Linked DNA regions of Homo sapiens. The protein of the gene in region 1 purifies or fractionates together with the protein of each later gene. This does not show direct contact. Each region holds a gene or a part of one and is shown in the gene's direction. Other genes may lie near its edges. The genes, in order: CDK14 and CCNT1.

Region 1 (3,826 bases):
AAAGAACAATTAGAGATATTTCTTCTATACTCTTTTCTGATTGCCTTAAAAATGAACATACTGCATATATACATTAATATTTATAATGTGTTTATTAATCCTTGGTATACATCACTTACAGTAGACATATGATTATTTCTTCATTATCTTGGATTTTAGACTTCTTTCATCCATCATAATATTGGATTCTCCTTGATGGCAATAACCCTTTATTTTGGAACTAAGTTCTAAGTGCAACTCCTCTTGGGTATTTCTATCCTAAATCTTTTTTTGATATCCCACATTTATTTCTCATTACTTTTTTTTAACCCTAAAGTCACTATAGATATATTAATCTACTACTCCCCTTAATGCTTAGCAAATCCTCCTTAACATTTCACGTATTTCCAGCCCATGTTTACTCAACACTCTGCCCTTTCTAAAGTCTACTCACTGACTATTACAACAGCTATCCTCAATTTTTTTTAAATTAAAAATTAAATCCCTATGGGAAAATAATTTTCCTATACTGAAAACAAAAATGCTGTAAATAGGCTCACTAGTTTACGGCTCATCACACTCAAACATATGGTTTGTTTTCCCATTTAGTGTAACTTGTAACTTGGTATCACTCCTCCTTGGTGACATCTCAATCCCATCTGACTTGAAGATTGAGTTTAAGCCAGGATTTTGATGGTCTATGAATTCTGAATTCTGTAGTAGTACTTTTCTGTTAATATGGACTTATTACCCACTTGCCACTTAGTTTATCAGCCAGTGGTTAAATCCAGTTTCTATCAGTGAGTAAATGCCTACACATTATCACTCGGCAGCAGACTGCCAAGGGAGACAGCCTTGTCCCCGTCATTAACAAGCACAAAGTATGCAGAACACCAGAGGGGAATTAAAACCACAAAAAATACCTCAGGGTGGTATTTTTAATATGAGAATTTAATTTGTAATTTTACAGATTAAGAATTTTGGCTGCATTAATCCCTTTATCAGCTCACAGCAGGCTATTTGCAGAAGCATAACCGTAAGGCGATATTCATTGGCAGAAACACGTCTTTGCATAACGTTAAACATCAGGAGCAGTGAAACCTTTTGAAGGGGGGAGAATAAAGATGAAAAATCATTATATTTTTAAACCAAGATTCTACTAAATGCCTCCGGTAACAATTTTGAGTTACAGAAATGCTATTTCTGTGTCTAGAAGATAATCATTATGAGGCATAAATCCAGTTGCAAGAAAGGACAATCCCAGTATTAAATACTATAGTCATTTCCATTTAGAACAACGTGGCTGTACTTGTAAACATGTTTACAAAACAAAGAATTCCCAGACTTTGGAGACTTAGGGAATTGGTTTCTTTAAGTGAAATGACTGGTTTGGGTGACTTATTATCTAGGTTAGTATTCTGCAGAGTATATTTAGAAGTTTTTTAAATTTTTATAATTAAATTTCATATTAGCATAGAGTCTTGTAAAAGTTCACCATCTGGCAAAGGCAGCAGTGGCAGTGGCAGCAGTAGCAGCAGCACCTGTAATACCCTTACGTATTTCTTTTTTAAGGAGATTTGGAAGGAGATCCACCTGGAAAGAAGTGTTACAGAACCAGTAAATGGATTGTCTTAGCAACCAAGCTGTAGTTTAGGAACCTCGCTGTCTTAGTTTGGTCACACTGCAATAACAAAATACCTTAGACTGGGTGGCTTAAACAGCAGACATTTATTTCTCTTGGGGATGGGAGGTCCAAGATAAAGGTGCCAGCAGATTCGGTTCCTGGTAAGGTCTTTCTTCTCAGTTTGTGAAGGGCACCTTGCTGTGTCTTCACAGGGTGGAGAGAGCAATCTCTTCCTCTTCTCACAAAGCCATTAATCTCATCATGAGGGCCCCTCCCTTATGAGTTCATCTAACCCTAATTACCCTCCTAAGGCCCCATCTCCAAATGCCATCACATTAGGGGTTAGGGCTTCAACAGATGAATTTGAGGACGGACACAATTCAATCCATAGCACTCTCATTCTTAAAGATGGCTCATAGCACTTTCTAAAGAATTTCCACAAGAGGAAAACACTTATGCAAGCAGGAAGCAAAGTCAGGTTAAAAGGAGAAGATGGGAACAAAAATAAGTTACAAGTAGATTTGAGCCTTCTTGGCCTAGTGTAATATGTCAGACCCCATGAGAAGGGCATCAAGTGTGGTTGGAGCCTGAGTAACACAGAGCCCTGCAGTCATTTCATAGATTCGTACAAAAGTGAAATTACGGGCTTATGTCAGACTCTGGCTTTGGAAGAATACATAGTAATGTAATATCTTTCTTTAGTATACTATTCCTTAAAACCTCATCAGGTTACATAGTACCAAAATTTAGAGGTAATGTATTAGTGTGGCACTGAAGCAGGAATTATAAAAGCAGAAAGCAAGAATAATGGTACAGTTATCTGGGGATCTGGCTGTTAAAGCTGGCTAATTCTGGTGGCACCCTGTCATTCTCCCTCTGTCCTGAAACCCCAACAGCTTTGTCCCACTTCTTCTCAAAGATTTAATTGCAGGGAAGTAAATGGAGGGCTGATTTAGAAGAAATTCATTACTTTTCCCAAATACACCACAGGGCATTCTCCTGCATATACTATCAAGTTACATAAATAATTGAAGCTGAACTACCCTTGTCAAAGTAAATGAACAAAATACACTTCATAGCACAGAGTCCTTGATTTTATTACACTCATTTGCTAATTCACAAAACTCAAATTCAGTGAAAGAAGGCCAACAAATCGGTACAGTGTGAAGAGCACTGAACTGGGAATCAGACCACCTGGATTGCAGCTTCAGCTCCACTGTTAACTAGCCAGGGAACTTTGGACAAGTGCCTTGGTCTCTCTGAGCTTCCCATTTCTCACTTAAGGAGCAAGTGAGGTGGGCACAGTAGTCTCCAGGGACCTTTCTAGCTCTAGAGTTTGTCGATTTTCCCACATATTCCTGTATATGTTCTGTATATCATCCTAGAACAGCATAATGCTCTTAATGTAGCTCTATGCTGTCTTTTTAAAAATAAAACAGGTGCACCCATTTCAGATTTAAGATTTGCTACCTTCAGTTCGTAGACTTTCATGCTGTTTTGAATCCTTTACAACCAGGCTTTTGTGTCCACAACGCCTGGCTTTCGAAGTCTCTATCCATTGGTCTTTTCCCAGCCTATCGAAGATTCAACACAATTGACAACCATCTCCTCCTACTAATACTTCTTTCGCTTGGTTTCCAGGACAGTATTCTCTCATTGCTTTCCTTTAGTTTAGAAAACTAAAGTCTCCTGTTCACACTCCTTTGCTGATTTCTCCTCATCTGCCAGACCTTTCACATTAGAGTGTCCTGGGGCTGAATCCTCAGATCTGTCTATCTGCATGGACTCCCTGGAGCCTAGATGATCTCATCCCATCTCATGATTTAAATATCATCTATACACTGGCAGTTTTCAAATATCCATCTCCAGTCCTGTCTTCCCTGACTTGACTTGCATATCCAACTGACACTCAACATTTCCATTTGACCATCTAGTAGGCCTCTCACACTTAATCTTACCAAAACTGAACTCATCTTTCCCCTCAAACTTGCGCCTTCTCTAGTCTTACCGTTGTCAATAAATAGCAGCATCATTCTTCCAGTTGATGGAAGGTATCCCTAATCATCTTTTTTTGGTTCTACTCCACATTCAGTTCTTCCACAGACCGTATTGTTGCTACCTTCACAGTATATCCAGGATCACGCACGCCACTCCTCACTTCACTGCTATCACGCTGCCCTCAGTCACTCACCATCTTTCACCCACATTTTTACAGTTGCCTCC
Region 2 (3,826 bases), on another chromosome or scaffold:
TCAGGGTTACAAATAAGTATTAGAATATCAGTTCTAGTCAGTAAAATGAAATATATATTTAAATTCTGTAAAATTATTTATGTATTTCTTTGACTCCTGGTGAAATACAGCTCTTAGCATTACTATCTTTGAGTCACTGAAATGTTCTTAATATTCAAGAAAAGTTCTATTTCCTGAAGTTTCCAAGATCACCAGGCTACATTTATGTCATATTGCTTTAATCTTTTATAAAGTTTGTTATCTACTTTTATATTGACTTCAATTTTTCCCTCTTAATGCTTTCTATAAATAATGTCTTGCATATAATGCCATGCTTTGTATTTTTGAAAGGTTCGATATGTATAAGTAATTGAGATATAATTCACGTACAATGAAATTCGTTTGTTTAAATTATATAGTTCACTGGTTTTTAGTATATGCGCAAAATTGTGCAACCATCAGCACAGTCTAATTGCAGAACATTTACATCACCCCAGAAAACTCCTCACCTATTAGCAGTTATTCCTATACTCCTCTCCCCGCAGCTCCTGGCAACCACTAAACTTTTTCTCTATATGGATTTGCGTATTCTGGACATTTCAGTTTACTCCTTAAAAAATGTATTGAGTGATTTGATACAAACTTAATAAAGAATCTCACTTTAAATAGAAAACTGTCTGCTTACATCTAGTAGCTTCTCCCATAGACAGCTTTTAATGACAGTTTGTCAAAGAATTGGTATTTGGAAGTGGAGATGGATTAATGGGTAGGAGAGGGGAAGATGGTAGAAGCGGGGGGGCGGGAAAGGGTAAAGAGGTGACAAAGTTGAGGCAAGCAAATAACTTGATTTGAGACTTAGCTCCTCTTTAGATCTACCTTACTCTATGAATGAATAAATTGATAATAAATATGATTTATTTTCTCTCCATTCAGTCTGTGGCTCCAGCAGCCTTGTTTCTAGCAGCTAAAGTGGAGGAGCAGCCCAAAAAATTGGAACATGTCATCAAGGTAGCACATACTTGTCTCCATCCTCAGGAATCCCTTCCTGATACTAGAAGTGAGGTAGGAGATTAATTACACATCTGTTTTTCTTAATTTTTTTCCTTTCTTTTTTTTTCCCTACTCCCAAGCATGCCTGGATCTTTATGTATTTCAATGCAACTTAATTTTATAACTTCGATTTATTGAAGTTTAGATTGGTGTTGTTAAAAGAATATTTTAGTGTTTGTGTTTTTCTTAACAGTAAGAAAATCAGGCCAGGTATGGTGGCTCACCATACCTGTAATCCTAGCACTTTGGGAGGGTAAGGTGGGAGAATCACTTTAGGCCAGAAGTTTAAGACCAACCTGGACAACATAGCAAGACCCTGTCTCTATATTTAAAAAAAAGAAAAAAAAAAGCCAGATGTGGTGGCTCATGCCTGTAATCCCAGCACTTTGGGAGGCTGAGGCAGGAGAATTGCTTGAGTCCAGTTCGAGACAAGCTCTGGCAACAAAGTGAGACCCCATTTCTACAAAAAAAGAAAAACAACAACAACAACAACAACAAAAAACAACTGGGCATGCTGGCTCACATCTTTAGTCCCAGCTACTTGGGAGACTGAGGTGGGAGGGTTGCTTGAGCATGGGATGTTGAGGCTGCAGTGAGCCATGATCACACCACTGCAGGCAACAGTGCCAGGACTCTGTCTGAAAAACAAAACACATAAATTTTATGGCGAAAGTTTTGTATTTGTTGCAGTAAAATTTGAAAATACAGAAAAATTCAAGAATAAAATATCTCTCAGATATATTCTAGACCAATGGTCCCAGACCTTTTTTGGCACCTGGGACTGGTTTCATGGGAGACAGTTTTTACATGGACAGGGGGTGGGGTTGGAGATGGTTTTGGGATGATTCAAGCACATTACATTTATTGTTCACTTTATTTCTATTATTGTTACATTGTTATACATAATGAAATAATTACGTAACTCACCATAACGTAGAATCAGTGGGAGCCCTGAGCATCTCTTTTTTTTTGAGACGGAATCTTGCTCTTGTCGCCAGGCTGGAGTGCAGTGGCGCAATCTCGGCTCACTGCAACCTCCACCTGCCGGTTTCAAGCGATTCTCCTGCCTCAGCCTCCTAAGTAGCTGGGACTACAGGTGTGCACCACCACACACAGCTAATTTTTGTATTTTTAGCAGAGACAGGGTTTCACCATGTTAGCCAGAATGGTCTCGATCTCTTGACCTTGTGATCTGCCCGCCTTGGCCTCCCACAGTGGTGGGATTACAGGCATGAGCCACTGTGCCCGGCCACCTTGAGGTGCTTTTCCTGCAACTAGATGGTCCCATCTGGGGGTGATGGGAGACAGTGACAGATCATCAGGCATTAGATTCTCATAAAGAGCAGCAAATTAGATCCCTTGCATGGGCAGTTCACCACAGGGTTCAAGTGCTCCTATAAGAATCTAATGCCACTGCTGATCAGACAAGAGGCAGTGCTCAGGTGGCAATATGTATGGTGGGGAGAGGCTATAAATACAGATGAAGCTTCACTCACTCGTACCTGCTGCTCAACTCCTGCTGTGTGGCCTAGTTCATAACAGGCCATGGACCCCCTGTTATATAGACAACTGAAGCACAGGTATACTAATGAACCACTGTTATTTGTGGCTTCTTTTCTATAGATAGCTATGTGTGCATGTATTTTGTCTCTGGTTTGTTTTCATTTGCTTACTATATCCCAAATATTTTCCCATCTGATGGATTCTCTACTTTTTAAAAATGTCTGGCTAGTATTTAATGATATATATGTGAATGTATGTATTTTTAACAATTCTCCATGAAGAAGTCTAGATAATTTCTAGCTTTTAAAATCACTATAAATGTTATGAAAAATATTCTTTTTTTTTTTTTTGGAGACAGGGTCTCATTCTGTTGCCCTGGCTGGAGTCCAGTAGTGTGATCATGGCTCACCGCGGCCTTGACCTTCCGGGCTCAGTGATCCCCCTGACCTCAGCATCCCGAGTAGCTGGGACTATAGGTGTGCGCCACCATGCCCAGCTAGTTTTTGTAGAGATGGGGTTTCACCATGTTGCCCAGGCTGCTCTCGACCTCCTGAGCTCAAGTAATTCGCCCACCTTGGCCTCCCAAGTGCTGGGATTACAGGCGTGAGCCACTGCACCTGGCTGAAAAATATTATTATACATTTTTATTATGGATCCTTAAATGAGTAGTTTCACTATTTTTTTTTTTTTTAACTTTTTTTTCGAGTTGGAGTTTTGCTCTTGTTGCCCAGGATTGAGTGCAATGGTGCAATCTCAGCCAACCGCAACCTCCCCCTCCTGGGTTCAAGCGATTTGCCTGCCTCAGCCTCCCGAGTAGCTGGGATTACAGGCATGTGCCACTACACCCGGCTAATTTTGTATTTTTAGTTGAAACGGGGTTTCTCCATGTTGGTCAGGCTGGTCTCGAACTCCTGACCTGAGGTTATCCACCTGCCTCAGCCTCCCAAAGTGCTGGGATTATAGGCGTGAGCCACCATGTCCAGCCAGCTTTGTTTTTTTTGAGACAGAATCTCGTTTTGTTGCCCAGGATAGAGTGCAGTGGCAAGATTGTAGCCAGGATGGTCTCGATCTCTTGACCTTGTGATCCGCCCGCCTTGGCCTCCCAAAGTGCTGGGATTACAGGTGTGAGCCACTGCACCCGGCCACCCTGAGCTTCTTTTCCTGCAACTAGATGGTCCCATCTACGGGTGATGGGAGACAGTGACAGATCATCAGGCATTAGATTCTCATAAAGAGCAGGTGATCATTTCACCTCAGCCTCCCAAGTTGCTAGGACTATAGCTGCGTGCCACCA

What was found.
Region 2: the proteins of CDK14 (region 1) and CCNT1 purify together in Homo sapiens (affinity purification with mass spectrometry, with the first as the bait; one large-scale study listed by BioGRID). This does not show direct contact.

What each region holds. Positions count from the first base shown.
Region 1 is NC_000007.14:91,113,551-91,117,376, forward strand, and holds part of CDK14 (cyclin-dependent kinase 14), read left to right. Parts: intron 1-3,826. UniProt on the Homo sapiens protein: Serine/threonine-protein kinase involved in the control of the eukaryotic cell cycle, whose activity is controlled by an associated cyclin.
Region 2 is NC_000012.12:48,702,983-48,706,808, reverse strand, and holds part of CCNT1 (cyclin-T1), read left to right. Parts: intron 1-912; coding exon 913-1,041; intron 1,042-3,826. UniProt on the Homo sapiens protein: Regulatory subunit of the cyclin-dependent kinase pair (CDK9/cyclin-T1) complex, also called positive transcription elongation factor B (P-TEFb), which facilitates the transition from abortive to productive elongation by phosphorylating the CTD (C-terminal domain) of the large subunit of RNA polymerase II (RNA Pol II).